Homo sapiens: one gene and its partners. The protein of the gene in region 4 purifies or fractionates together with the protein of the main gene of each other region. This does not show direct contact. Each region holds a gene or a part of one and is shown on either strand. Other genes may lie near its edges. The genes, in order: TMEM192, BRI3BP, PON2 and NPC1.

Evidence for each region.
Region 1: the proteins of NPC1 (region 4) and TMEM192 purify together in Homo sapiens (affinity purification with mass spectrometry; 2 studies listed by BioGRID). This does not show direct contact.
Region 2: the proteins of NPC1 (region 4) and BRI3BP purify together in Homo sapiens (affinity purification with mass spectrometry; 2 studies listed by BioGRID and IntAct, with this or other methods). This does not show direct contact.
Region 3: the proteins of NPC1 (region 4) and PON2 purify together in Homo sapiens (affinity purification with mass spectrometry; 3 studies listed by BioGRID and IntAct, with this or other methods). This does not show direct contact.

What each region holds. Positions count from the first base shown.
Region 1 is NC_000004.12:165,102,700-165,109,947, forward strand, and holds part of TMEM192 (transmembrane protein 192), read right to left. Parts: intron 398-7,248; coding exon 251-397; intron 1-250.
Region 2 is NC_000012.12:124,989,136-124,996,774, reverse strand, and holds the start of BRI3BP (BRI3-binding protein precursor), read right to left. Parts: upstream 3,131-7,639; 5' UTR 2,985-3,130; coding exon 2,772-2,984; intron 1-2,771. UniProt on the Homo sapiens protein: Involved in tumorigenesis and may function by stabilizing p53/TP53.
Region 3 is NC_000007.14:95,431,900-95,439,949, forward strand, and holds the start of PON2 (serum paraoxonase/arylesterase 2), read right to left. Parts: upstream 3,130-8,050; 5' UTR 3,053-3,129; coding exon 2,979-3,052; intron 1-2,978. UniProt on the Homo sapiens protein: Capable of hydrolyzing lactones and a number of aromatic carboxylic acid esters. Has antioxidant activity. Is not associated with high density lipoprotein.
Region 4 is NC_000018.10:23,583,299-23,590,421, reverse strand, and holds the start of NPC1 (NPC intracellular cholesterol transporter 1 precursor), read left to right. Parts: upstream 1-3,915; 5' UTR 3,916-4,078; coding exon 4,079-4,135; intron 4,136-7,123. UniProt on the Homo sapiens protein: Intracellular cholesterol transporter which acts in concert with NPC2 and plays an important role in the egress of cholesterol from the endosomal/lysosomal compartment.

The DNA of each region.
Region 1 (7,248 bases), on a different chromosome or scaffold from region 4:
CATGGCTATTATCAACAATATCTTTACATGTGTGCAAATATATCCACAATGAATTATTTGAAGATATAAGTAAAAGTGTACGTACTTTTTTTTTTTTTTTTTTGCCCATGACACAGCACTCAGGATGTCCTAAGAACATGTGCCCTACATTTTAAATGTTGATAGATACAGCACAACTGCCCTCTGAAACACTTATATAATTTTTACAAACATCACCTCTGGATAGGTCCCCTTCTTGCAGCCAACTTACATGAATAAACCACAGAAGATTCACTATGATGACTGTAGGAAGAGGATGGAATCGGGGTCTAAAGTGAGCTTGTAATGAGTGGTGTGGGAGAAGCTGGGCATCCAGAAGTGGGTCGTCTTCAATACTCTGGGTGATATCCAAGGAACCCTGGGGTGCAGAAAAACAAGCAACCTATAATCACCACTTTCTAGATTATGTTTCTAAGACAAATCTACTAAACTACAGAGCTTTTTAACCACATACAAATTAAAGGCAAGAGAACACATTGCCTACCTGAATCCAATTTTTTAAAAATTAATTATTAATTTAATTTAATTAATTAAAAAATTAATTAATTTTTTAAAAACTGTAGCAACACGGTCTCACTATGTTGCCCAGGCTGGTCTTGTTTGTTTGTGTTTTGTTTTTTGTTTTTGAGACAGTCTCGCTCTGTTGCCCAGGCTGGAGTGCAGCGGCGCAATCTTGGCTCACTGCAACCTCTGCCTCCCAGGTTCGAGCAATTCTCCTGCCTCAGCCTCCTGAGTAGCTGGGACTACAGGTGTGCACCACCACACCCAGCTAATTTTTTTTTTTTTTTTTTTTGAGATAGAGTTTCACTCTTGTTGCCCAGGCTGGAGTGCACTGGCACAACCTTGGCTCGCCGAAACCTCCACCTCCCGGGTTCCAGCAATTCTCCTGCCTCAGCCTCCTGGGGTAGCTGGGATTACAGGCATGCACCACCACACCCGGCTAATTTTTTATTTTTAATTTTTAGTAGAGATGGGGTTTCTCTATGTTGGTCAGGCTGGTCGCGAACTCCTGACCTCAGGTGATCCGCCTGCCTCGGCCTCCCAAAGTGCTGGGATTACAGGCATGAGCCACCGTGCCCGGCACACATCCAGCTAATTTTTGTATTTTCAGTAGAGGGAGGGTTTCACTGTGTTGGCCATGCTGGTCTCAAACTCCTGACCTCAGGTGATCTACCCACCTCGGCCTCCCAAAGTGGTGGGATTACAGGCATTAGCCACAGTGCCCGGCCCCAGGCTAGTCTTGAACTCTTGGCCGCAAGCTGCAATTCCAGCTACTCGGGAGGCTGAGGCAGGAGAATCACTTGGACCCAGGAGGTGGAGGTTGCAGTGAGCCGAGATTGCGCCACTGCACTCCAGCCTGGGCGACAGAGAGACTTCGTCTCAAAAATATGGATATATACTGCATTGTATATACTTTTAATTTGCTAAGAGTGTAGATCTTAAGTGTTCTCATCACATGTTAAAAAAAAGAAAAAAAGAATATGGTTCATGGGAAGCACATAACAAATCAGCAAATGAAAAGCATAGAAGACAATGCCAAAAAATTTAGGTCAGCTAACTGCACTACAATGAGACAGAAATGAAGGATTCATGAATAGGTTTTGGCTACACAGAATGAGAGCTCTTTATTTTGGAAGTAGGTAGTAGGACAAATGATGTAAGAGATGGCTGTTGATTGCTAAGATTACAAAGATAAGGACAGTAATCTAGGGTGTAACCTAGCTCTGGAGTGGGCTCCTCAATTTCCAGTAGCAGGTATTCAACACTGCTCTGCAACTGTTTTTGTTGTTTTGTTTGTTTGTTTGTTTTTGAGATGGAATCTCGCTCTGTCGCCGAGGCTGGAGTGCAGTGGCTCAATCTCGGCTCATTGCAACTTCTGCCCCCTGGGTTCAATCGATTCTCCTGTCTCAGCCTCCTGAGTAGCTAGGATTAAAGGCACGCGCCACTATGCCCGGCTAATTTTTGTATTTTTAGTAGAGATGGGGTTTCGCCATGTTAGCCAAACTGGTCTCAAACTCCCAACCCCAGGTGATCCGCCTGCCTCAGCCTCCCAAAGTGCTGGGATTACAGGCATGAGCCACCGCGCCTGGCCAAGTCTTTTATTCAATGCCTAGATTGCTTCCTGTTTAGTTTACCATAACTCATGGTACAATTCAGATTACTCCTGTTCTCTTCAAGACCCCTCTGCCTCTAGCTCATTCTCAGTCAGCAGATGTTGGAGCCTTGAGATCTGCTCTTCCCTTAGCTAATGTCTGTGCATTCTTTCATGCTCAGAAGGGGCAATTCCCACCACAGGGCCTTTCTGGATACCCCTAATCTGGATTGTGCCACCCTCCATGTTTTTCAAAGCATTCTGTGCTTGCCTCTTCTATCAAACTATCCTGTGATGGTCTCTTACTTATCTCTTCTCCACTAGACGTCATTGGACCCATTACCTTTACACCTCTTGTCTTTGTAATCCCAGCACTCAACACTATCTCATGGTTGTCACTCAGCAAACATTTGCTAGATGAATGAATGAGTGCCCCAAACCTGTTTCTGCAGTATTTTCTAATTCAATTATGGGCATCATCAAAGACCTGGGCTAATTAGAAGAGATTATCAGGACATACGGGGGATCAACTGTGACCAAAGGCAGTAAGAGCTGTGGTTAAGGTCAGGCTCCTAAGGGCAAACTGCCTGGATTCAAGCACAAGTTTTACCGCTTTCTAGCTGAGAGCAAGTTACTTCATCTCTCATGCCTCAGTTTCCACATCTAAAAAGGAGACTAATAATAGCACCTGCTTCGTAGCTCTGTCAGGAATACTAAATGAGTCACTACACATGCAAGTCCTCATGACACTGCCTGACGCACAGAGAGCACTCAATAAGTATTAGCCACTATTATTTCTTTATTAACTCTTTTCTCTTTTTAATATTTTTTAAATTTTAAAATAAAAATCAACAGGGTCTCGCTATGTTGGCCAGGTTGGTCTTGAACTCTTAGCCTCAAGCAATCCTCCCAAGTGCACTCCCAGTGTGCTAGGATTACAGGTGTGAGCCACCACACTTGGCCTTTTTATTAACTCTTACTTTTGACTTGCACCCCGCTATGGTCTAAATGTTGGTGTCCCCCAATAGTTCCCTGCTTTCCTTTGGGAAGTAATTAAGCCATGAGGGTTCCCCCCCTCATAAATGAGATCAGTGCCCTTATAAAAGAGGCTTGAATGAGCTCCCTTCCACCTTCCACTGCGTGAGGATGCAGCAAGAAGGCGCCATCTTTGAAGCAGAGAGCAACCCCTCCCCAGGGCTCTTGGCACCTTGATCTTGGGCTTCCTGAATCCGTGGCTGCCTTAATCTTGGACTTCCTGTCCTCTAGAACTGTGGTCAATACATTTCTATTTGTAAATTACCCTATTTGTATTTTACTATAGCAACCCAAACAAAGACACTACCCCTATAATCATTACCATTCTATCCACTCAGTGCTGGGGCATGATAAAAAGAGAAAAAATCATTACCATTCTAACTCCTAAACCTGTTATTTCCTCTCTATTCTCACTATCTTAGTCCAGGCCCTCCCATTTCTCATGGCCTTTTATTAGAAGCTTCCAGTCTTCTGGTCTTGGCAATCTCTTTCACTGCTCCAAGACAAACATTCGTGTTTCTCTCCTCAAAAACTTTGGGTAGCTCCCTATGATGGTCAATATTAAGTGTCAAATGGATGGCAAAGTATCGTCTGTGAGGAGCCAAACATTTGAGTCAGTGGACTGGGAGAGGAAGACCCACCCTCAATATGGGCAAGCACCATCCAATCAGCTGCCAATGCAGCTAGAACAAAGCACAGAATAGGCGTATAAGCAGCTTGCTGAGTTTTCTGGCTCTCTCTTTCCTGCGTCAGATGCTTGCCTCCTTAATTCCTGCCTTTGGACATCAGACTCCAGATTCTTCGGCCTTTGGACTCTGAAACCTGCACCAGCAGCTTGCCTGGGGCTCTCAGGCCTTCGGCTGCCGACTGAAGGCTGCGCTGTTGGCTTCCCTGGTTTTGAGGCTTTTGAACTTGGACTGAGCCACTACCACCTTCCCTTTCCCCAGCTTGCAGGTGGCCTATCATGGGACTTCACTGTGTAATCTTGTGAGCTAATTCTCCCTAATAAACCCCCTTTTTATATATACATATATCCTATTGGTTCTGTCCCTCTGGATAATCCTAATACGATCCCCAAATCCTCAGGACAAAGTCCAAATTCTTAGTCTATCGCTTTACAATCTGTCCCCAAGTAACTTCTCAGGATTTTTTTTCTCTCTTTTTTTTTTCTTTTTTTGAGACAGAGTCTTGCTCTGTCCCCCAGGCTGGAGTGCAATGGCATGATCTCAGCTCACTGCAACCTCTGCTTCCTGGGTTCAAACAATTCTCCTGCCTCAGCCTCCCAAGTAGCTGGAATTACAAGTGCCCGACACCTTGTCCAGCTAGTTTTTGTATTTTTAATAGAGACGGGGTTTCACCATGTTGGCCATGCTGGTCTCAAACTCCTGACCTCAAGTGGTCCACCCTCAGCCTCCCAAAGTGCTGGGATTACAGGTGTGAACCACTGTACCCAACCTTTTTTTTTAAAACAAAAACAAAAACAAAAAAAAAAACAGGGTCTCACTCTGTCACCCAGGCTGGAGAACAGTGGCACGATCTCGGCTCACTGCAGCCTCCGTGCCCCCCTCCCCAGGCTCAAGAAATCCTCCTACCTCAGTCTCACGAGTAGCTGGGACCAGAGGCACACTCCACTATGCTTGGCTAATTTTTGTATTTTTAGTAAAGGTGAGATTTCACCATGTTGCCCAGGCTGGTCTTGAACTCCAAAACTCAAGCAATCCACCCACCTTGGCCTCCCAAAGTGCTGGGATTACAGGCATAAGCCACCACGCCTGGCCAAGGATTTGCCTCTCACCATTTCCCTCCCTCCTGGTGCCGTCTGCTTATGATACCCGTCTTTCATGAAACACTTTCCATCTCTACACCAGCTCTACTTATTCTTCCCCACCTGTCAAATGCTTGTCCCAGCAAAACCGCCTTCTCTGCGGTGCCTTTTTAGCATTCCCAGCCCCAGCATCATTCCTACTGCACTCTTAATCTGACATTGTAGTTTTCATCTGTACAAGTTTGAGCTGGGTCTACTTTGTATCTTCCATGTCTCTATGTAACTTCTAAATATATAGAAGACATTTATAATAATGTTTAATGTTCACATGCTATTTCTAGCCTATGTCATGTCTGAATCAGTTTCAGTGGACTCAGTACAGCTCACATTTTCCTGCCTCTTAGCATGCCTTGTCATTTTTTATTGGATGCCAGATATTGCAAATTTTACCTCTGTGGGTGCTGGGTATTTTCTGTATTCCCTTTTTTTTTTTTTTTTTTTTTTTTTTTGGAGATGTAGTCTTGCTCTGTCACCCAGGTTGGAGTGCAGTGGCATGATCTCGGCTCACTGCAAGCTCTGCCTCCTGCGTTCACACCATTCTCCTGCCTCAGCCTCCCAAGTAGCTGGGATACAGGCACCCAGCACCACGCCCGGCTAATTTTTTGTACTTTTAGTAGAGACAGGGTTCCACCATGTTAACCAGGATGGTCTCGATCTCCTGACCTCGTGATCCGCTCGCCTCAGCCTCTCAAAGTGCCGGGATTACAGGCATGAGCCACCGCACCCGGCCATTTTCTGTAATCCTATATTCGTGAACTTTGTTCTGGAGTGCAGTCAAGTTACTTGGAAACAGTCTTGCTGTTAAGAAATTAGGTGGGCTTCATCTAAGGCTAATCTAAGGCCTCCACTACTGAGGCAAGACCTTTCTGAGTACTCTACCTACATGCTCTGTGAATTATGAGGGTTCCGTCTGGCTTGTGGGTGAAATAGGCAGTATTCTTGGCCCTGTATGGAGAAACTGTTCCTTCCAATCCTTTTAGGTGGTTCTTTATGAGGCCTCCAAGAGCTTCCTCATGCCCTGATTAGCACTCTACTGGATGCCTGGTAGGCGCAGGGCCAGGGGGCTCCCCGTGCATATCTTCAGAGTTCTCCCTCTTTGTAGCTCTCTCCTCTCTGGGTGCTCTGTCTTGTGAACTCCAGTTACCTCGATCTCCTAGACCCTCAACTCCATCTCCTCAACTCAGAAGTCTGCTGGGCTCTGCCTGGCTTCCCCCTTCCCTGTCACAGCCTGCACACTCTTTCAAGGCAGTAAGCCGGAGCAGTGATAGGGTTCACAGCATTTGTTTCCCATCTCTGAGATTGCTACCCTTCATTGTCTGATGTCCGGTATCTCACAAAGTGTTGTATCATACGTTATATCTAGCTTTTTGGTTGTTTCAGGCAGAATGGTATATCTATTCCCAGTTACTCCATGTTGGCTGGGAATGGAAGTCCCTACTGAACTCTCTTACATCTGTATCTGTATCATAACCTACCATACTAAGCACATGGCATTGAAATTGTCAGAATAAAATGTGCTTTACAAGGGCAGAGACTCTTTTATATTATGTCCTTTGTGCTTTTAACACTTGATACACAGCAGATGCTAAGGTGTTCAATATGCGTGTTGAGAGAAAGAAAGACTGCTCAACTTCTTGTATGCTTCAGACCTGGGAAATTTTTATTTATTTATTTATTTATTTACTTTTGAGACAGAATTTCGCTCTTGTTGCCCAGATTGGAGTGCAATGGTGTGATCTTGGCTCACTGCAACCTCTGCCTCCCAGGTTCAAGCAATTCTCCTGCCTCAGCCTCCTGACCACAGGCTGGGATTACAGGCATGTGCCACCATGCCCAGGTAATTTTTATATTTTTAGTAGATACCGGGTTTCGCCATGTTGGCCAGGCTGGTCTCAAACTTCTGACCTCAGGTGATCCACCCGCCTCAGCCTCCCAAAGTGCTGGGATTACAGGCGTGAGCCACCGCACCTGGCCAGACCTGGGACATTTAAACAAAGCTAGCATTGAAAACTTCACTATAAGACAATAATCTACTTTATCTCCTAATATGTCACTTTCATGCACCTTCTTCTCTCGCCTAAATGAGCTTTCTATAGAGCCCTACAAATATCCTCCCTTACCTTTTTCAGAATTCTATGCATCTTTCAAGGTCCTAACCAAGTTTATGTTCTCTATAAAACTGGCCTTGTTAAGTGTTTTCCTTCTGCTTTAAAATCCTATAAAACTTATTGCCCATAATATTCATTTGGAATATTTC
Region 2 (7,639 bases), on a different chromosome or scaffold from region 4:
AAAAAAAAAAAAAAAAAGACTATGGGGTGTTTTTTTAAATACCATTAAACTTCACAAAGCAGGTTTGGCTCTAATTCGTAAACCCAGGCATGCTGAAAACTACAGTTGCTGGCAGACCCAGTTTTCCTTTATTTAAAATTCACAAAACAGGCTGGGCACGGTGGCTTACGCCTGTAATCCCAGCACTTTTGGAAGGCTGAGGTCGGCAGATCACTTGAGGTCAGGAGTTTGAGACCAGCCTGGCCAACATGATGAAACCTCATCTCTACCAAAAACATAAAAAATTAGCCGGATGTGGTGGTGCTCACTTGTAATCCCGGCTACTCACTTGTAATCCCGGCTACTCAGGAGGCTGAGGCAGGAGAATTGCTTGCCCAGGAGGCAGACGTTGCCGTGAGCCAAGATCGTGCCAACGCACTCCAGCCTGGGTGACAGAGTAAGAGTCTGTCTCAAAAAATAAATTAATTAATTAAATTTAAAAAAAAACCCATAAAATTAACAAAACAATATCCCCAAGCCTGGCCAGTGTGGGCTACACTCAGCAGGAAATAAAATAAGTCAGGCCAGGTGCAATGGCTCACACCTGTAATCCCAGCACTTTGGAAGGCCGAGGCGGGAGGATCACTTGAGGTCAGGAGTTTGAGACCAGACTGGTCAACATGGTGAAACCTCTTTTCTACTAAAAATACAAAACTTAGCCAGGCATGCTGGTGGACACCTGTAATCCCAACTACTTGGGAGGGTGAGTGGGGAAGATCGCTTGAACCTGGGAGGTGGAGGTTGTAGTGAGACGAGATCACTCCACTGCACTCCAGCCTGAGCAACAGAGCCAGACCTCCGTCTCAAAAAAACAAAAAGGAAAGAAGTCAGGTCAGCCTCTGGATGCTGTACTGACTCGGGGAACAGGGAAGGGGTCATGAAGCAGGAAAACAGGCGAGAGATACTAATGTGGGCTCCATGTCCACTCTGCCTAGGTTCACATCCTGGCTCTGCCACTCATCTGACCTGAAACCAGCCACTTCACTGCTCTGTGTCTCAGTTTCCTCATCTGTCAAATGGGAACAGTAACAGTACCTACTGCACAGGGTCATTCTAAGGATTACATAAGATTATTCTATCTACAAAAGCACTTAGTAATCATTAGTATCTCTATTAAAGGCACAAACCCCGGTTTAGCCCAGGAAGAGCTCTGACCCCCAGATTCGGAGATGCTCTGCCAGAATACAGATTGTCTTATTTAAGTAAAAGTCTTAAATAACCACTCGTATTTCATGTTTGTTGGCCTTAGATTGTCACATGGAACCACCGTCAGTTGAGACATGGGGATCCTGTGGTCACCCTGCGTGAAAAAGACAGGCTTATTTTTGCTCTAAAACAAATGATTTCTGCCTTCAAATAGCTCCGAAACGGCATCAAGAGGAAGTAAGTGAGACTCCCTGCACTCACACCCCTGATCCTTTCCCGCGCCAGACTCCAGGGCAACCTTTTCACATTCAGGCGTTCAGCCCTGCTTCCTTGCCCCTCTTTGGCCACCTACAAAGCGTTCTCTCCCCTACATGTATGAAGACACAGACCCACCTGTGCAAGAGGTGCCCCTGCCCACAGGAGAGGGAGGTCAAAACTTACTGTTTTCCTAACAAATTAACCTTTCATGTTATCCAGTAAGAACATGCAGTCAATCTGATTTCGGCCTTCATATTCCCTTCTATTCCCCACTCCCTCTCAATGAGCAGAAAACTTTAACTTTTTAGCCATGATTCTGGGCCAGGAAGGTACCAACTAGTCATAATTACAACCTCGCAATGAAGGGGAATGATTACTATCCCCATTTAACAAATAAAGAAACAAGCTCAAAGAAGTGAAGTCACTTCCCCAAAGTCATCCAACTGGTAGAGCTCCAACTTGAACCCAAACTTCTCTGACTCCAAAACCCCAGGAAGGCTGGCGGCAAGCAAGAGCCCCCTCCTCCCCAGGGAACAGCAAAGGAACCGCAATACCACACACAACTGTCCCCAGTAACTTCCTCCTTCTCAAGAGCTAGTCGGCGGACTTCGGCCCGGAATGGCACCCCTATCGCACCTAGCTCCAGAGAGCAGGAATTGGGGAAAACCCCCTGCGATCCTCCTGGGACTCAACACCCTTCCCAGGAGGCTGCAGGATCCGGGACCTCCCCAAACTAAACAAAAGGCTCCACGCGAAAGGCCCCGCACACAGTAGGTGCTCGGTTTCCCAAAGCCACCGAGCAAATCGCATTGCTCCCTTCTTTTCCTGTAAAGTAAAAACAACTCCAAGTATCTTCAAAGCAGGAGGAGGAGTGGGGCAGAAGGTCCCAGGGGAAGTGGGTCGGGATGCGAGGCTAGGACAAACCCGGGGTAGCTGGGGAGGGCGCAGCCGCGTGGGGACCGAGAGCGCCAGTGTGCTGCCTGGCTCACAGTAGGAGCCATTCAAACGCGGTGAATGAATGAATGAGACGCGCGGCAGGCGTCAGCGCAGCCGGGAGAGACTCTGGCTGCGCCGACCGCGGAGGCAAGGTCCAAGGAGAAGCGCGGCGCAGAGGAGAGGGCGCCCCGAGGCCCGGCCGCCCAGACCCGCACTGGTCAGGCCCGGCGGGGGCCGCAGGCGGCAGGCCCCGAGGCGCAGGCCGGACCCCCTCTTCCCGCGCGCTGGCCGGGCGGGCAGCCCCGGAGGCCGCGCTCCTCCCAGGTCGGCCCCGGTAGCCAGGTGCGTGGCGACCGGGGCAAGGTGACCGCGGGCGCGGGCCCGGCGCCCACCTTCTGAGCGGCGCGCACGTTGTCCTCGCCGAACAGGCTGCTGACGCTCTGGGAGAAGGTGTTGACCGTGCGGCGGTAGCTGTTCTTCTCCGCGCCGCCGCGGCCCCGCGCCCCCTGCGCGCCCGGGGCCAGCAGCCCGAGCAGCAGCAGCAGCAGCAGCAGCAGCAGGAGCCCGGCCCGGGCCAGGGGCCCGCCTGAGGCGCGCGCGCCCATGCTCGGCCGGCGGGGCGCGGGGTCGCGATGCGGGGTGAGGGCCGTGCGCTGGGCCGCAGCGGGCTCCGGCTAGGGCAAGGTTGGCGCGCTCGGGGGCCGCGCGCCGCGCCTTTACCCACAGCCGCCGCCGCCGCTGCTGCGCCACCTGCCCCGCCCCGCGCGCAAAGGCGCACGGCCCAGCCCACGCCGCGCCCCGCCCCCGGCGCGGGACCAACGCGACCCGGCCCCGGGGCCCCGCGCCCGCCTCCCGGAAGCCTGCCCCGACCCGGTGCGGCTTCTCATCATTTAAAAAAAAATTCTCTTTTTTAACTTATCCGTGGAAAAGCAACCCGTGCCTGTAAAACTTGCAACAGCTTCAACCAGGAAAGTGACTGCAACTGATTGAAAAACATGAAATAGACATATATGTAATCTCCCTGAATGTATTATAATGGTACCCCAAAATTCGCCCTCGTGGGCATCAGCTCATTCATCCTGAAAATTTTAAATAACAAGAAAGCATCAGGCATCCTCCTGCCCTTCCTGAATGAACTGTATTTCAGAGCCCCAAAATAGTTGGGGAGGGACTTTCTTTTACAAAGTCCAGCTAATACATGAGGATGAATGAGAGAATCCGAAAATTATTTGGCACCCCTCAATAGAATGATGGATTCACGCGATGATCATCAGAAATGGGTACAACCAAGAGGGGAGGGTTTGGCGGGGAACTTGAAAATGGAGGGGCTAAGCCGCGAAGTCCCGGTCCCGCCAATCGATCTTAGTGCCAGGAAGTACCAGCGCCACCTGCGATGGATTCTTGCCAAGACAAGTTGAGCATGAACCTGATGGGGCCTCTAGATCAAACCTACAGTTTACAGGAAATATGGCAGATAAGGAAAACTTAGAAGCAGCAGAAGCAACCAACCAACTCCAGCATGTGGGGCATTCTACCAAACAAACGACCCAGTTTGTTCAATAAATAATTGGTATAAAAGGTGAGCGAAGAGGAGGATAATTGGTTTTAAAGACTTAAGAGCCATAATAACCCATGCAATGCAAGGACCCTGTTTGCATCCTAAATCAAACAAATCAAGTCTAACCAACATTTTTTTTAGACAACCAAGAAAATAAAACTCAATTTTTGCCAATCCAAAGAATACAAAATGCTCTTATTTTTGAATTTACATTTTCTGGATTCCTAGTAAGATTTTCATAGATTTATTGGCCATTTGAATTACTTCTCTGTGAATTACCTATTCATATCCTTTGCACATTTTTTCCTGTATTGTTTATCTTTTTAAAAACTTTTTTGTAGGTCGGGTGCGGTGGTTAACGCCTGTGATTCCAGCACTTTGGGAGGCTGAGGCGGGTGACCTGAGGTCGGGAGTTCGAGACCAGCTTGACCAACATGGAGAAATCCCTCCGTCTCTACTAAAAATACAAAATGAGGCCAGGCGCCGTGGCTCACGCCTGTAATCCCAGCACTTTGGGAGGCCGAGGCGGGCGGATCACAAGGTCAGCAATTTGGGAGGCCGAGGCGGGCGGATCACGAGGTCAGGAGATCGAGACCATCCTGGCTAACACAGTGAAACCCCGTCTCTACTAAAAATACAATAGCCGGGCGTGGCGGCGGGCGCCGTAGTCCCAGCTACTCAGAGCCTGAGGCAGAAGAATGGCGTGAACCCGGGAGGCGGAAGTTGCAGTGAGCCGAGATCGTGCCACTGCACTCCAGCCTGGGCGACAGAGCGAGACTCCGTCTCAAAAAAAAAAAAAAAAAAAAAAAAAAATCCAAAATGAGCCAGTTATGGTGGTGCCTGCTTGTGATCCCAGCTACTCGGGAGGCTGAGGCAGGACAACCGCCTAAACCTGGGAGGCGGAGGTTGCAGTGAGCCGAGACTAAGCCACTGCACTCCAGCCTGGGCAACAAGAGTGAAACTCCGTCCCAAAAACAAAACAAAACAAAACAAAAACCTTTTTTTACGCCAGGTGTAGTGGCACAAGCTTGTTTTGGGAGGCCAAGGCAGGAGGATTGCTTGAACACAGGAGTTCGAGGCCAGCCTGGCCAACATAGTGAAACCTATCTCTATAAAAAATGATAATAATAATAATAATAATAAACTTTTTAATTAAGGTATAACATACAGAAAAATACACAATCATATAAATTTTTATGAATTTTCACAAACTGAATACCCAAGGTAACCAGCACCCAAATCAAGAAACGAAACATTACCAGTTCCCCCACGAAGCCTCCCTTTGTCCCCTCCCATTCACTATGTTCCTCTTAAAATTTAGGGGATTCATTTGCCTGTGTTTGAAGTTTATGTAAATGAACCACACAGTACTCTGGGGGTTGGCTTCTTTTGTTCAACTTTTTTTTTTATTTATTTTTTATTTTTTGAGACGGAGTCTTGCTCTGTTGCCCAGGCTGGAGTGCAGTGGCATGATCTCGGCTCACTGCAACCTCCGCCTCCGGGGTTCAAGCGATTCTCCTGCCTCAGCCTTCCGTGTAGCTGGGACTATAGGCACGCGCCACCACACCCGGCTAATGTTTGTATTTTTAGTGGAGACAGGTTTCGCCATGTTGGCCAGGCTGGTCTCAAACTCCTGACCTCAGGTGATCCGCCTGCCTTGGCCTCCCAAAGTGCTGGAATTACAGGCGTGAGCCACCACGCCCAGCTTTTGTTCAACTTTATATTTGTGAGATCCATCCATGCTGTTATGTATCTGCCTTCTTCTTGCTGTCTAGAATGGTCTATACCTTCTGGAAGGTAATTCACTGATATATTATATTTTAGAAGGAAATATAGGCAAGTGTACTACTACCTACTTAACATTTTTTAAACGTTTCTTAAACTTTTAATTTATTTAAATAAACATATTTAAAGAAGAAACTTTAGATCACTATCATCCTGAGCAACAAAATCCATAAAAACACAGATTTGAGCCTGGGTGCAGTGGCTCAGGCCCGTAATCTCATCATTTTGAGAGGCCAAGGTGGGCCGATCACTTGATGTCAGGAGTTTGAGACCATCCTGGCCAACATGGTGAGACCCCATCTCTACTAAAAATACAAAAATTAGATGGGCATCTTGGTGGGTGCCTGTAATCCCAGCTACTTGGAAGGCTGAGACAGGAGAATCGCTTGAACCCGAGAGGTGGAGGTTGCAGTGAGCCGAGACTGCTCCACTACACTCCAGCCTGGGCGTCAGAGGGAGAGTTCTGTCTCAAAAAAACAAAAACAAGCAAACAAACAAAAAACCCCATAGATTTGATACGCTAATTATGATTTTTTTAAACGTCATTCATTAAGGCCTTCACAGTGGCTTATGCCTGTAATTCCGGCACTTTGGGAGGCCGAGACAAACGGATCCCTTGAGCCCAGAATTTTGAGACCAGTCTAAGCAACATAGGGAGACACCATCTCTACAAAAAAATAGAAAAATTAGCCCGTCGTGGTGGTGTGTGCCTGTAGTCATAACTACTCAGGAGGCTGAGGTGGGAGGACAGGTCAAGGCTGCAGCGAGTGGTGATTGCACCACTGCACTCTGGCCTGGCCCACAGGGCGAGATCTCATCTCTTAAAAAAAAAAAAAAAAAAGTCGGGCGCGGTGGCTCATGCCTGTAATCCCAGCACTTTGGGAGGCCCAGGCAGGCAGATCACGAGGTCAGGAGTTTGAGACCAGCCTGGCCAACATGGTGAAACTCCGTCTCTACTAAAATACAAAAACTAGCTGGGGGTGGTGGCGGGCACCTGTAGTCCCAGCTACTCGGAAGGCTGAGGCAGGAGAATCGTTTAAACCCGGGAGGCAGAGGTTGCAGTGAGCCGAGATTGCTCCACTACACTCCAGCCTGGGCAACAAAGCCAGACCTTGTCTCAATAATAATAATAATGCATTGTTTCCCAGTGTGTTACAATGTGATGCGGTAATGGGAATTTAAAGTTATGTAATAGACAACTTTATTTTTTTTTTTTTGAGACAGAGTCTAGCTCTGTTGCCCAGGCTGAAGTGCAGTGGTGCAGTCTCGGCTCACTGCAACGTCCACCTCCCGGGTTCAATCAATTCTCTGCCTCAGCCTCCCAAGTAGCTGGGATTACAGACGCCTGCCACCAGGCCTAGCTAAATTTTTTTTGTATTTTTGGTAGAGACGGGGGTTTCACCATCTTGGCCAGGCTGGTCTTGAAATCCTGACCTCGTGATCCGCCCGCCTCGGCCTCCAAAAGTGCTGGGATTACAGGCGTGAGCCACCGCGCCCGTAGAGGCCTCCTTTTAGATCTTCCATCTATCCCTGTGATGGAAATATTTGGTGCCTTTTTAAAAGTACACGACTAATACGTTTCTTGTAGGAATATCAGAAAATACAGATGCGCAAACCAGGGTTGGGGGGAAGAAGTTTGGAGTACTGGGGGCGGGGTATATTTTAAAAGGTGGCAAAACACTTCCACTCCCAAGAAGCCAAATTAGTATCAGTAGATATAATTCATATTTAAACCCAGACTACCCCAAGCGAGAACAGCCCAGGACTTAAACTCCGGCCTCCGCTGGGACCTCAGGCCCCGCCTACTTCTCTAAATAGTCCCGCCCCCTGCCCGGCCCGGCTCCGCCTCTCCTCTTCGCTGGGTTTCTCTTGCAACCCCGCCCCTCAGCGGCAAAGTCAGTTACAGTTCTCGCGATA
Region 3 (8,050 bases), on a different chromosome or scaffold from region 4:
TTCATGCTTATACTAAAAAAAAAAAAAAAAATCCATGTGAAATTCAAAGTTAACTGGGTAGCCTACATTTTTCTTTGCTAAATCCAGCCACCCACCACCTACCCCAACATTCTCACGTCAGCCCATTTGGGGCTCCACATATCCAATAAAGTTACCATTTTATAAAGTCACTGCCCATTAAAGTGCATCACAGTCACGTAAAGAAAAGGTGCATCAAATTGTAAAGTAGGCCGAGGGTGGTGGCTCATGTGTATAATCCTACCACTTTGGGAGGCTGAGGCAGGAGCATCACTTGAGGCTGGGAGTTTGAGATTAGCCTGGGCAACAAAGTGAGACCCTGTCTCTGCAAGAAATAAAAATACTAGCTGGGCATGGTAGCATGCATCTGTAGTCCCAGCTACTCAGGAGGCTGAGGAGGGAGGACTGCTTGTGCCTAGGTGTTTGAGATTGCAGTGAGCTTTGATGTACCACTGTACTCTGGCTTGGGCGGCAGAGCAAGACCTTGTGTCAAAATAAAAAACAAAGAAAAACAAAAAACAAACAAACAAAAACCTGTAAATAAACTATCAGGCATTCTGTCAATAAGTTTTATTTACTTTTTCTTTTTTTTTTAGATTTGCAGCTATAACTTTAAAACCTTAAGATTAGTGAGAAGGGGGAATATTTGACTGTTGAGAAAACTTCCAACTTGCAGAAAAACTGGTGGCTTACACATTAGTGACAACATAATAAGCTTGTGAATTTTGGTGGTCTTGCCTTTGAAATGGAGAGCAGGACAGATCATATACAAAGTCATCCAACTCATGAATGTTCTGTAGAGCACAATGGGCATTACCTAACATGAAAATTAAGGTCAACATGTCCATTTCCTACCCATAAGCGTTCTTTCCTCAAATCTCACTCCCATCTCAGCCACCACACGCTTCCTCTTTGCACTGCTTTATCAGTAGATGAAACTACAACCATGGGACAGTGGAGCTGTGGCACAAACTCTGGTAGCACCTTTGACTTCTCCCTCATCCCTGGGGTTCCAGAGTTTGGGTCCCTGTTATCCTCTCTGACCTACTGCAATACCTTAACCAGTTACCCCATGTCTGCTCTCTATTCTAGTAGTTCTCGACCTTGACTGCTCATTAGAATTATCAGGAATGTTTTTAAAAATAAAAAATGCCACTGCTACTGTCAGCCACTGTTCTTACATTATGCACTTCCTTATTTATCTATTTACCTGGGAACCCTGAAGCCAGCTTGCCAAACAATACATTATTCCATATCACATTTTAATTATAACGAAAAATCTCTGGTAGGTAGACACCATAGTTTATAAATTACCAACTCAAATTTTGTTTTTTATTTATTTATTTATTTATTTATTCATTTTGTAGAGGTGGGATCTTGCTATGTTGCCCAGGCCTGTCACTAACTCCTGGGCTCAAGCAATCTTCTGGCTTAGGCCTCCAACAGTGCTGGGATTACAGGTGTGAGCTGTAGATTCTGATCCAGAACAGCTGAATCAGAATCTTTGGTGGTGCCACTCAGACACCAGCCCTCCAGGAGATTCTAATGTACAGAGAACCATTGCTCTCCTCCAATCCCCCCTTCCAGGCTTATCTCTATAAAACACAACTAGTTATATTAAGTTCTTGTTGAAAAGCAAAACCCACCAATATTTCCCTTTTGAAGCACTATTGGGCCTATGAAAGTGGGGCCCCATTTTTCAACTTATATTTAATGGCCTCAAAACCTATCCTTCCCACCACCCTACTATTCTCATCTCCTGACTTTATGCTCCCTTCAAATTGGCCCATTTGCTAGTCTTCCAACTTCCCACCTTAGCCCCTTTGCTCCTGCTGCACTATACATTTGGCATGGGCCCCTTCATGCTCATATGTGTTGCACCCACCCTTCAAGGTCAGGTCGAATGTCTCTTCCTCCCTCTAGAACTCCACCCTCAGGGGATGGAATCTTTCCTCTTTAAGCCTATGCGGTTCATTTGTGTCTGTCCTTAGAACATCCTAATTTATACATTTACTGTATTTTAATTCTCTCTTCCCCTGTATCAAACTCCATAAGGGTCGTACTCTACTATAGAAGCCTAAGAGAGAACATTACACATAGCAGGTGCTCAGTCTTTCTGGAACTCTTTTGCATGAGGCCTATAAAATTTTGGTTGAGGCAGGGCAGAACAGCTCACACCTGTAATCCCAGCACTGTGGGGAGGCCTAGGCTGGAGGATTGCTTGAGTGCAAGAGTTAGGGAACAGCCTGGGCAATACAGCAAGACCCCATCTCTACAAAAAATAAAATAAACAAAAAACAAACGTTGAGTTGGTAATTTATAAACGATGATGTCTACCTACCAGAGATTTTCATTAAAACTAAAATGCGAGATGGAATAGTGTCTGCGCTGTCTGGCATTCTGGCTTCAGGCTTCCCTGGTGAATAAATAGGAAGTAAGAACAGTAGCTGAATATTTCAAGTGTCTTTGATCTACAGCTGAAGAGTTTCTCAAACTATGCAGAAATGGGTGGAGAACAACTTTATTAAAGACGGGTCTGGTTTGGGCAACAAGGAGAAACAGCACCAATGACCTGAAATAAATCTTCATAGTTAAGGTTTCAATGCATGAGTAGTCATTTTGTTTTCAATTTAAACCACTAGTTTGGCCCTTGGGTAATTGCAAAGCATTCTCTTGTCAGCCTAAGCAGAAGAGAACTTTGTTAGCAGCAAGGGCTTATAAACTTTCAAGAAAGTGTCGCGATTCACTCCAAACTTTGCTAGTTTTTTCACTAGAAGCGGAGAGTCGGGGTGATGGGGGTTCAACTAGCTGGGGGAGGGACAGCATTCAAAAATTCTCCACCCCCGGCCGCAGGGCCAGGTCCCGCAGGAATCCCTCCCCCAGCCTGCGCCCTCCCCGCACCACGCGGCCACCCCGAGCCTGGGGACCGCCGAGGAGGGGCGCGCGGGAGTCCCACCTACCTGAGTGCCAGAAGCCTCTCGCCCAGGAGCGCCAGCGCGATCCCCAGCAAGCCCACAGCCACCAGCCGCCCCATGGCGCGGGAGCCGGGCGCGCTGCCTCGCTCCGGCCTGGCCAGCAGCTCCGTGGGCGGTGCCATCTTCCCGGCTCGATGGTGCCGGCCGCGCTCCGCCCCGTCCTCCGCCTAGGCCGAGTCCCTGCGTCGGGGCCGCGGAGGCTCCGCCCTGGGCCTGGCCCTGGTCTTTGTCCTCACAAACCTATTTCCCCAGATACCTTCGGGACGGCCCGGACACGCCTTACATTAGGCTCATGATGTGAAACTTTGAATTCCTTCACTTCCTTTTTCAAACAACCCACCCGAAACCCTCTAGCAGCCCGCATACCTTTCTCGTTTCCCTAGTCTTCAAACACATTTCTCACTCGCTATTCCAGTGAGAAACTTACATAGAAAGCAGCTTTTGGGGATGGGGGTCGGTGGCCAAGGGAGGGAAAGTAACGGGATGCGTCGTGTAAATATTTCACGTTGGAATCACTACTTTTTATAACAGGACGTAGTTGCGAATAAATAAACATCCTGTGCCTCGTAATACTTTTTTTTTTTTTTTTTAACAGGGTCTCGCTGTGTTGCCTAGGCTGGAGTACATTGGCACAATCATAGCTCACTGCAGTCTGGACCTCCCGGACTCAAGGGACCCTCCAGCCTCAGCCTCCTGAGTAGCTGGGACCGCAGGCACGTACCGTTACACCTAGCTAAGTGTGTGTAAGTTGTGTGTGTGTCTGTGTGTGTGTGTGTGGAGACCGAGTCTTGCTGTGTTGCCCAGGTTGGTCTCAAACTCCTGGACTCAAGCCATCCTCCTGCCTCAGCCTCCCAAAGTGCTAGAATTACAGGAATGAGCCACCATGCCCAGCCTCTATTAATACTTCCAGACTACAGACTTAAGGACTTAGACACGTCTTTTTCATCCAAACTCAAAGGGAAGAAGTGTAGTTTTTTTCTTTTCCGTTTTTACTCTAACAACCGTAACATGAAGGAATAATTTAAAATACAATTTTAAAAGTAAAATGAAATTTACCCATCAAGATTGATACCATTACAATAAATGAGTACATCTGAAATAAGCTTCTAATGGTTTTCGGTATTTAATTGCCACCCTACAATATGTAGGCAGAAATGGTCACACTTGACAATTTTCAACAAATATCAGTTTTATAAAGAACCAGTAAATAAAAGTGGATGCCAATTTCCCACCTGCCTCTCACCAAAAAAAAAAAAAAAAAAAAAAAGCACAAACACCTCTCTCCCTGTGTGTGTGTGTATCTCTGCTTCAGTCCTAAGGATATTGGATTATACTGGATGGTAGAAAGAGAAGTAAAAAGTTGTCCTTTGAAAGCCCATGAGGCATTACCTTTTTTGTGTCGTGGACCCTTCTGGCAGTGGTGAGCCTGTGGATAACTTCTTAGAATAATGTTTATAAATGCTTACAATAAAATGCATAAATTTTCTCTGTGCGGTTCATGAAAAAAAGAAAGAAGAAAAAAAAATTTTAAATAAATGAATAAAATGTATAGATTGCAAAGAAAATCAATTACATTGTAAGGAAAAAAAATAGCTGAGAGCAGTCTGAGCTTTGTGAGGTATGCAAAATTTATCAGGCCCAGAGCGACATGAGTATGGGACTTCAGTCACGCCCCAATACCCATGCCTGGGGACAGTTGTTTAAAGACATTTTGTTCCCGAGTAGCTGTCCCACCCATTATCTTCATATTCCTGGAATTTATGATACAAAGAACAAAGTATAACCAATCCACAGCTTATGTTATTTTAACGCAAGGAATTTAGGAACTGCCTCTTCCTTCCCCTTAAAAATCTATGTGTAACTGCTGCTAATCAGAGTGTATATTTAGGGAAACTTGAATCTATACTCCTGGGTTGCAGTACTCAAACTTGGCCCAAATAAACTCTCTACTTACATTAATTTTGCCTTAGCTTTAAAATTAAAGGTCAACAATTGAAATGTAATTGTTAAAATATCTAAAACATAATTTTTTGCTATAGTAATGTGGTAATGTAATGTGTGCAACATTATTTAACATATTAAATAACAAGATCTAGCAACATTCTTTTAAATAAAGAGGAGTGCAAATGTTCTTTCATGATACTGAAAACAACTATAATGAAATAATGAAAATAACTGTTATTTCCATTAGTAACAGTCACAAGTACTGCAAATGCTTCTGAGGTTTGTCTGCTAGTTTTGTAATTGAAGAAAATGCTAAATTCCATTTGAAATCAAGATTTTTTTTTTCTTATCCAAGGTCATTAATTCCTCTGAACTATCAATGGACCACTGGGTTAAGAACTCTGACATAGGCTAAGGCTATGACTGTTTAGAGAAGGGTGGAATCTCCTTTCTAGGACTATTTTTGGTGTCAATTATTGAGGAAGAGAAGAGCCTCAGATACAAAATCAGAATTTAGGCCTGGCAAGGTAGCTCTTGCCTATAATCTCAGCACTTTGAAAGGCCCAGGTGGGAGGATCACTTGAAGCGGGGAGTTCAAGACCATTGTGGGCAACATAGGGAGAACCCATCTCTACAAAAAAAAAATTAAAATTAACAAAAAAAAAAAATTAAAGAATCAGAATTTAGAAGAAAGACCTAAAGCAGAGGGCCTTGGACTATTGTCTGGGCTTCTCTCTTAATCTCTTAGGCCCCAAGGGAAGTACATACAACTATGCCTCATGGATTCTGGGTCAGGAGCCAGGCTACCGTGTCTTTCCACAAGTTCCGCAAAATGAGGAAACCACATAGATGGCAAATAAGAATATCCAAGTATATGCTATTCTCTGTCTATTTCCCTTTTGCTATTCCCAATTTTTTAAAAAGAAAAAAGTCATGTTCTTAATAGTCATGTTCTTCAACCTGGTTCCAGGTGACATTAAAGGGTTGGAGGTCTACATCTTTTAGGCTAGTCTCAGGATAGCAAAAACAACAACAACAACCAAAACCAGCTTTTGTGCTGACTTTCCTTTCTTCCCTGGCCCATGGTAGGCGTCACTAATTGATTTTGGCAAAGTGTCTCATCACACCCAGACTTGTCCTCACAATTTTTTAAAACAACAACGAAAGGGAAATAAGAATCCCTGAGCTAGGGAACAGATTTCAGTTCAGGATGAAACCTGTTTGCCATCTTGGTGCTGGGTGGTCAGGAGGAACAACACCTTGGGATTTAGCATGGAAGCATTTGTGATAATGAGCCAGGACTTTCAAGTCCACCAAAACCTACCTAAGCTCACCCTCAGAGAATCAAGAGAAATGGAAACCTTATTTTAACTTTATTAACATGACCAGTGAGTTCCCCCAATAATCTGTGTGAGGAATCTTCTACCCCCATATTCTTTCTCTTTCTGAATGTTGCGGTTGAAGCAACTTTTGCAGAAGTAGTATCCATCTTTACCCCCAGCCCCACCACCATGCTAGGGCTGGAATTGTCATTCCTCACATGGGGATGGAGATGAGACGTATTTTCTAATTTGGAAATCAGAAACCATTGTAAGAATGTTATAGTGGTTGTTACATTGTATAGTATAGTTTAGCTGTCTTTTGAGATAACTAGGATGTATAGGCCACACCAAGAACATAACCCCTGGTTTACGTTTGTTTCCTGGGGAAAGTGGTTTCTGACTACCAAATAACCAAGTTACTCAATACAAAACAAACTTGTTCTGGAACTTGCTTGTGTGCTGGCAACTCCTTATACTTGGTATGAAACAGTATTTCTCAAATAATGACTTCTGACTTATTTAGTGGTTATTAAGTGGTTTTTTAAGCAAAATTTCAGAAATAATAATACCTTTTATCAGTGCTTCTCAAACTATGTGCAGTGAAGGACAGGTTTTTCTTGGCCTTTGTAAAATGCAATGAAAATGACTTACTGGAAGAGGAAGTAAAAAAACCAGACATACAAAATACAAGCCCAAATCTTTTATTATTTGGTTCAACAGACATAAAATTACTTTGTCAAATTTCTGTAACAGTTTCTAAATGCTTACTTTCAATTTTTTATACTTAACTAGCCATGGACCAGAAACAAAGAGTTCACAGACTGAAATGGTCCCTGGAGCACACTGCCTTTCATAATTGTACTTTTAACTCTTTAAAGTTCTTTGCAGTGTATTCTTAATTGTAACGCTCACAGTAATTTGTGAAATAGGTGACTCGTGATTATTGTAATTTTATATAATATGTGACAGGGAGTTCGGCCCTCCATATTCCTTTTATCCCTTCTTCTCCTTACTTCTGTTTTAAAAAGGGAACAAAAATGCATTGAAGGGATGCTATCAAAGATGGTTATTATCAGCAAAAGAAAGATTTGCCTTGTAGATGCCTCACTCCGTGGCTTCTCAAAGAGTAAAGGAAACCTCCCCACAGCCAGGCCGTTTTCTGAGAATTCCAACATATTAAAAAGTGAAGAAATGGCATAACAGAAACATAAAGTTTTTTTTTAATATTTATGTTCAACAAATTAACATCTTCAAATAATAGGTTGAATGATATTAACTTGTTTGTAGAGGTCAAATTCATAAACAGAGATAAAATACAATGTAATGTGCTAGTTACAAAATAATTATGCAATTCATAAAAAATATTTATTCCTGGTTTGCTATAGGAAGAGTGGTCCAGTCATGGAACTCAAGTTTAAAATGAATGAGTTTTTTCAGTTGTGTCACTGTATCTTTGTGATGTATGAATAAATGAATTGTGAGATAATGTTGAAAGTCAACATTTAGGGCTCTTTGTAAACTTCACGTCTAGGCCAGTTGGCTTGCCTGTCCCCATGAGACCCAAGCCTATTTATTTGGAGAGCTATAGGCTTTGCTGCCTCTCTTCCAGGAGCCATTGAACCCTGGGGAAGAGGACAGAGAGGAAGAAAACACTGGGAGAAAAGAGGGGAGCAGGAAGAGAAAGATACAAAAACTCCCCAACCTCCATGTGAGGCTGACTTTGGATGGGCTGAACTCTATGGAAAAAGTAAAGACATGTTACATCCTCTTCTAGGAAATGCATGCACGTTT
Region 4 (7,123 bases):
CTCACTGCAACCTCCAACTCCCTGGTTCAAGTGATTATCTCACCTCAGCCTCCCGACTAGCTGGGATTACAGGCATGCACCACCACCCCCGGCTAATTTTTGTATTTTTAGTAGAGACGGGGTTTCACTATGTTGGCTAGGATGGTCTCGATCTCCTGACCTCATGATCCACCCACCTCAGCCTCCCAAAGTGCTGAGATTACAGGTGTGAGCCATCACGCCCAGCCTAATTTCTTGTTGCCCAGACTGCAGTGCAATGGCGCAATCTCAGCTCCCTGCAACCTCCGCCTCCCAGGTTCAAGAGATTCTCCTGCCTCAGCCTCCTGAGTAGCTGGAATTACAGGCATCCACCACCATGCCTGGCTAATTTTTTGTATTTTTAGTAGAGATGGAGTTTCACCATGTTGGCCAGGCTGGTCTTGAACTCCTGACCTCAGGTGATCCACTTGCCTCGGCTCCCAGAGTGCTGGAATTGCAGGCATGAACCACCGCGCCTGGCCAATTTTTGTATTTTTAATTGAGACGGAGTTTCAGCATGTTGGCCAGGCTGGTCTCGAACTCCTGACCTCAGGTGATCCACCTGCCCCGGCTTCCCAAACTGCTGAAATAATAGGCGTGAGCCACCGTGCCCAGCCCCAATATTTTTTAAAATAAGAAACAAAATAAATAAAATCACAGATTGCATTTAGGTACTTCCATACATTGCTGGCTGCAATTTCTTTGGAGGGCAATTTGACAACAATCAAAACTTAAATACCCATTTCCTTTGATCCAACAATATAAAAGTATTTCCAACAGTTCTATTTGCGCATGATTGCAAAGATTTACATCCAAGAATGGGCCAGGAGTGGTGGCTCACGCCTGTAATCCCAGCACTTTAGGAGGCTGAGGCAGGCAGATTGCTTGAGCCCAGCAGTTCAAGACCAATCTGGGCAACATGGTGAAACCCCGTCTCTACAAAAAATACAAAAATTAGCCAGGAGTGGTGGTGCACAGGTGGGAGGATCGCTTGAGCCCAGGAGGTAGAGGCTGCAGCGAGCCATGATCATGCCACTGCACGCCAGACTTGGCAACAGAGTGAGACTCTGTCCCAGAAAAAAACATTTTTAAAAGATACAAGGATGTTCATTGCATCATTTCCAGTAACAAGTGACAAGCTAAATGCCCAAGAAGAGACTGATTAAATAAGTTACATAGTGGATCAAAAATTATTAACGTAAGTATTTCTAGCCTTCCCCTACCATCTGCCAGCTACAGATAATTTAGTCTTGGGTCAACTTTCTCCTCTCCCTCTACAAGGGAAATGTTCAAAAGTGTTTAGACTTTGGTGATGCAGCATGATTGGGAAAGCAGAGGGCACAGAAAGATGCCAGGCTTTGTGGTCTCCAGGCAAGCTCAGGAATGTGACAAAGCATACCGAAAAGAAAAGCGGGCTGGGAGCAGTGGCTCACGCCTGTAATCCCAGCGCTTCAGGAGTCTGAGGCTGGTGGATTGCTGGAGGCCAAGAGTTAAAGACCAGCCAGGCCAACATGGTGAAACCCCATCTCTAATGAAATCCAAAAAAAAATTAGCTGGGCGTGGTAGCGCACACCTGTAATCCCAGCTACTCGGGAAGCTGAGGCATGAGAATCTTTGGAGCCGGGGATGTGGAGGTTGCAGTGAGCTGAGATCATGTCACTGCACTCCAGCCTGGGAGACAGAGCAAGACTCTGTCTCAAAAAAGAAAAAAGGAAAAGGAAAGATAAATTTATAATGTATTGCCAGGACCACACAAACCCTTCATATGTACCAGGAATGCAAGTAGAGGAATTGAGTTATTTTGAAATACTTGTTGGCTGGTGATTTATATTTCATTGATTTAGACACTGCTCTGAGTATGGCTTCAGAAGTGTTACATACGCATAATAAAATCCTTTACAGCTATTAAAAGGAGTGAGGTAGGAAAGCATACTGCTAAAAGCAAAGAAGCCAGATGAGAACTGTGTACTGTACATCCCCACTTGTTTAAAACGTTTGTATATTATATTCACATATGTATGCTTTCCACTACATAGAAGTTTTCTGGAAGGTATTTCTGCACATTTATAAAGATGCACATCTAATAATTTCATTTCCCCCCATTTTCTACTTATTGCTCTGAGGTCAACACTGAATAGTCCTTATGAAGATGGTATTGAATATTCTTTCAACAAAAAAGTCTCCGGATCTCAACTACTGGAGCTCAGAAAACGATACCCCAAAGTAGGAGGCTTTGGCATGCTAAGTACTTTGAACTAAAGGAGATTAGGTCTCAGTAGCAGCCTCAGAAACAAAGTCTACCCATGACTTTCTCCTGCCCTCCTGTCTCCAGCGGTCTTGCACCCCTGAAGTAAGTCACAGGAACCAGAATTCTTCTTCCCCAAGGAGGGTTATGGAAACTTAGAACCTTCAAAGTAATTTATAAACTTGGAAATCTTACTGTAACATTTTCTTCTACCTCTCTCTGTCTTTGAGACAGGGTCTTGCTCTATCACCCAGGCTGGAGTGCAGCAGCATGATCATAGACAACTGTAGCCTCCTGGGCTCAAGCAATCCTCCTGCCTCAGCCTCCTTAGTAGCTGAGACTACAGGTGTGTGCCACTATGCCCAGCTAACTTAAAAAAAATTTTTTTTTTGTATAGAGGGAGTCTTGCTACATTGCCCTGGCTGAGAATTTACATTTCTAACAAGTTCCAAGGAGATGCTCCTGCTGCTGGTCTGGGGATGGCCGTTTGAGGATCCCTGCATGAAGGCATACACAGGACTTGATCCTCAGTGGGGGCACCAGGAGCTGGAGCCTGGGGAGTGGGAAGCGAGAGCACAGAGCTGACTGAGGACCACGAGGTCGTCGTGGAGGACCTAGGCTGAAGGTCCTGAAGAAATCCCCATAGTTTCACTGCCAGGCCAGCCAGGTGGACATCTCAGGGCTGAGGAGGTGAGAAGGCAAGACAGAAAGTGAAACAGCACTTTATAGGATAGGGATGGGAAGGTCATCTGCATCATGGGACTCCTTGGGGAGGGGTTCGGTCATTGCTCCAGATGAAGGTTTAGTCTTTTCATCGTAAATTTGCTTTCACTGTTGGGAAAGAGATCTTCACCTCCATTTTCTTAACTTCAAAATGGAAATGACAGATGCTTTTGAGTGGTCTGAATACTTGAAATTTGAGGGAAAACGTTACCAGAAACACATACAACTAGAGTTAAAGATAAATACATATATCAAACGCATGGCTCAAAAATGACAACGCGTCTTCTTTATCTGCCTTCACGTAGAACTTAAAACAGACCCTGGTCCCCACCTCGGGGTTTCCTCGCGCCCACGGGCTGCGCTGCGCAGCTGGGCCAGCAGGTGGCGAGGCTCCCGCACTTTTTTTCCCGGGCCTGGCCGCACCGCCACCGCCCACCCCGCGCTCCGCCCCGCCCCGCCCCGCCGCACTCGCGGATCGTCACACGGTCAGGCCACCGCGCGTCACCGCCCCGGGCTCTGCTAGAAAGTGCCGGGGTCCAGATTCCTTTCAGGTGACTGGGTTGGGAGGAGAAGTCGCTCAGCGTAATTGTCGGAGCCGAAATAAACAGAGACTCCGCGGCCGGGCGGGACCTTACCCGGAAGTCCCCCAGAACAGCACTACCCTTCGCTGAAACCTCGCCCGCCCCCTCCAACCCAGAGACGAAAAGGGAAAGCATCACGGCCAGAAACCGTTGGCACAACTCCACAGATACTCTCCCGGGCCGAGCCAGACTCCATAAGTCCCGCGCCTGGCCCCCGGGGATTGCAGGGGCTGAGGAGAAGGGCAACACGGGGACCTTGAAGCGGGGTCGCGGCGGCGCCCCAGCCCGGGCCAGGGAGTCCCGGCAGCGGCACCTCCCAGAAAGGGCGGAGCCGACGACGCCTTCTTCCTTCCTGACCGGCGCGCGCAGCCTGCTGCCGCGGTCAGCGCCTGCTCCTGCTCCTCCGCTCCTCCTGCGCGGGGTGCTGAAACAGCCCGGGGAAGTAGAGCCGCCTCCGGGGAGCCCAACCAGCCGAACGCCGCCGGCGTCAGCAGCCTTGCGCGGCCACAGCATGACCGCTCGCGGCCTGGCCCTTGGCCTCCTCCTGCTGCTACTGTGTCCAGCGCAGGTGAGCGGTCGCCGGCCACCGGGACGCCCTGTGGGGACGTGGCGGGGCCGAGAGCCGGGGAAGGCGACGGGCCCAGCGACGGCTCAGGCCCGGGTCCTGGGGAAGTTGGTCTGGCGATGGAGAGCTCGGAGGTTCCTCACTTGTCCTGTTTCTGTCTCCGGCCACGCTCTCTTTCCTGTGGTCTGGAAGAGGGTGGCAGTGGGGGCTTGGGTGACCTGTTCTGAGCTTGTTCCATCTGTGGTCACCTAATTTCTCTGTGTAGGATGTGGCACCAGAAGAAGGGAGGAAAGTGGGTAGAGTGGGATAGGGACACTACTTGCTTTTTAAAAAATTCTGCTACATGCGCACGAACTCCAAAATTTAGGAGCTCTAACCACTTTATTTCCTCTTCTCATCACCTGAGGATGGAGGTGGAAGCAGAGGTAAAGAGACACAAACTTCCTCAAGCACCCGGTGAAACTGCCTTGAGTACTTGACATAAGTCAGCTTGGTCTTCTAAAGAGGGCAGGTTACTTTTCATCAACTCCTTTTTACACCTCAGGACACTGAGACTCACAGGGCGGTATTGAATTTCCCCTTGTCACTATTAGCCAGCGACAGGATGGGGCCTGGAACTCGGTGTCCTGCTGACTCCTTCTGGGGGCTTTTGCTTGGTTTAATAGCTTTGGGAAAGAGCACCTCAGTATTTGTGTGTCTGTAGTTTCCTCTTTTAAAACTGGAGTGGGGCAGTGTCACGCTGTGACTCGTTAAACCAAATCAGGATGAGAGTGCCTCCGGGGAATTGTGTCCTTGTGCACATTAACGCCCCTCACATAGGTGTGGCGTCAATAGGAAGTGGTGAATCAGGGGAGAGGGGGTTCCGTGGACTAGAAAAAACTCTCCTTCGACTTCTATTTAGTTCTCAGAAGGGGATAGGTGATGTTGATCCAATAATGGACTAAGAGCCAGGAGAAGGGCTCCGCGGGAGGATCTCTTGAGCTCAGCAGTTCAAGACCAGCCGGGGCAACATGGTGAAACACCGTCTTAAAAACATTTTGTTTTTCTTTTCATTGTTGAGGTTGAGGCTGCTGTGAGCTGTGATCACGCCGGTGTACTCCAGCCTGGGCAACAGAGCAAGACCCTGTGTCAAAACAAAAAAGAGAGAGAAATAAATAATAGCAATTATGTGCCGTAGAGAAAATGTGGCTATTCTGTTTCCCTAGAGTTTTTTAAAATTTATTTTTAAAATTTATTTATTTTAGAGACAGGTTCTTGCTCTGTTGCCCAGGCGTGGGGGCAGTGTCGCCATCATAGCTCACTGCAGCCTGGAACTCCTGGCCTCAAGCAGTCCTTCCACCTTGGCCTCCCAAAGCACTGGGATTATTGTGAGCACCACTCCTGGCCCCTCCTAGAGTTTTAGATCAGGACCTTAAATAGGCTTCCCTTTTTTTTGGAGACAGAGTCTCTGTTGCCCAGTCTGGAGTGTAGTGGCGCAATCTCGGCTCACTGCAACCTCTGCCTCCTGGATTCAAGCAATTCTGGTGCCTCAGCCTCCCAGGTAGCTAGGATTACAGGTGCCCACCACCACGCCCAGCTAATTTTTGTATTTTCCGTGGAGATGGGGTTTCACCGTGTTGGTCAGGCTGGTCTCGAAATCCTGACCTCTAGCGATCCGCCCTCCTCTTTTGGGGATTACAGGTGTGAGCCACCTCGCCCAGCCAGGCTTCACATTATTAAGTAGCCATCTCTTAAGTATTTTTTAAATCTCAAGTACCCAAGGCTGATGGCCAATGAGTGCTTCTTTTATGACATTTGGGATAGGTCAGAGGTTTGTTGTAAGTCTCTTGCAAAAATGCCTGGAGGCCTTTTCAAGGTCTGTAAACCTTAACTGGAAATAATCCTATTATTATTTTAAAAATTCCTCATGTCTGAAAGCTTTCAGTGCACCTGAACAGATTGGGGTGGAGCCATGAAGCCAAACAGATTGGGAGAGAGAGTGTGTCTGCTTTTAGAATTCGTACCGATGATAGCAGCTCATTAGCTTCAGTCTGAGCGCTAGTAGAGTTCTATCATGGAATTATGGACTAGTTGTCCTGTGTAAGATCTGAAATACATGTTGGGGGGATTTTTGCTTTTTCTTAATGTTCAATATGTACAGATGATGTAATAACATTACTAGACTGCCTTGTTTTTAAAACCCTGTAGTCATCTAAAAACTATATGCAGTTTTGAGACATAGCCTTTATTTTTCCCGGCTGTAATTTTGGTAAGCTTTATCTTGAGGGACTTGGAACATAGAGAAGCCTGGGTAGAAATTAAGCATTAAAATGGCTTTTCCTCAGAAGACTGGGAATGGTTAATCTTTTGACCTGTGAGTGATTAAGAACAACCATCTGAAATTGGAATGACTGTGGGAAATCTTTCCCCATCTTTCCCACTCCTTGACTGATGCTGTGATCAGAAATTTTACTAACATAAGTAATCAAGGGGAAAATGAGATTTTTTTAAATTTGAGCCAGTGGGCAGAGGGAAAAGGACTCGCTGAATAGGCCTTTGTATTCCTCCAGTGTTTGTTATATTACCCAGAACAAAGAATCACTCTGGTCATGAAGACAGTGTGCTCTCTCTTTCCTGGGTAACCCTCCACTCCTAAAAGGGATGCAGTATTCTAAGCATGGCAGATTACCTACAGCGGAAGCCTGGATCAGTCATCTCTGATCTCGGGTGCCCCTTTCTGCCCTTTGACCTCCAGCTCTGTGAAGGGCATCAGCTCTCCAGTCAAATTGAACTGCTTGCTAGCAAAATCCTGCCCATCTTCCAGGGCCCCATTTCACATGCTACATTATCTACGACATTCTTGTCCTGTTCCCCTAACTAGAATGCCTTCCCTCTGAAGTTCTGAATCTTTATTTAAACTGCTGCAACAGCATTTGCTGCCTCATTAAAAGACCTTGGTGTGGGTCTTGACTCTTCTCTGTTCCCAAGAGTGATCTTGGGTAAGCCAGTTAT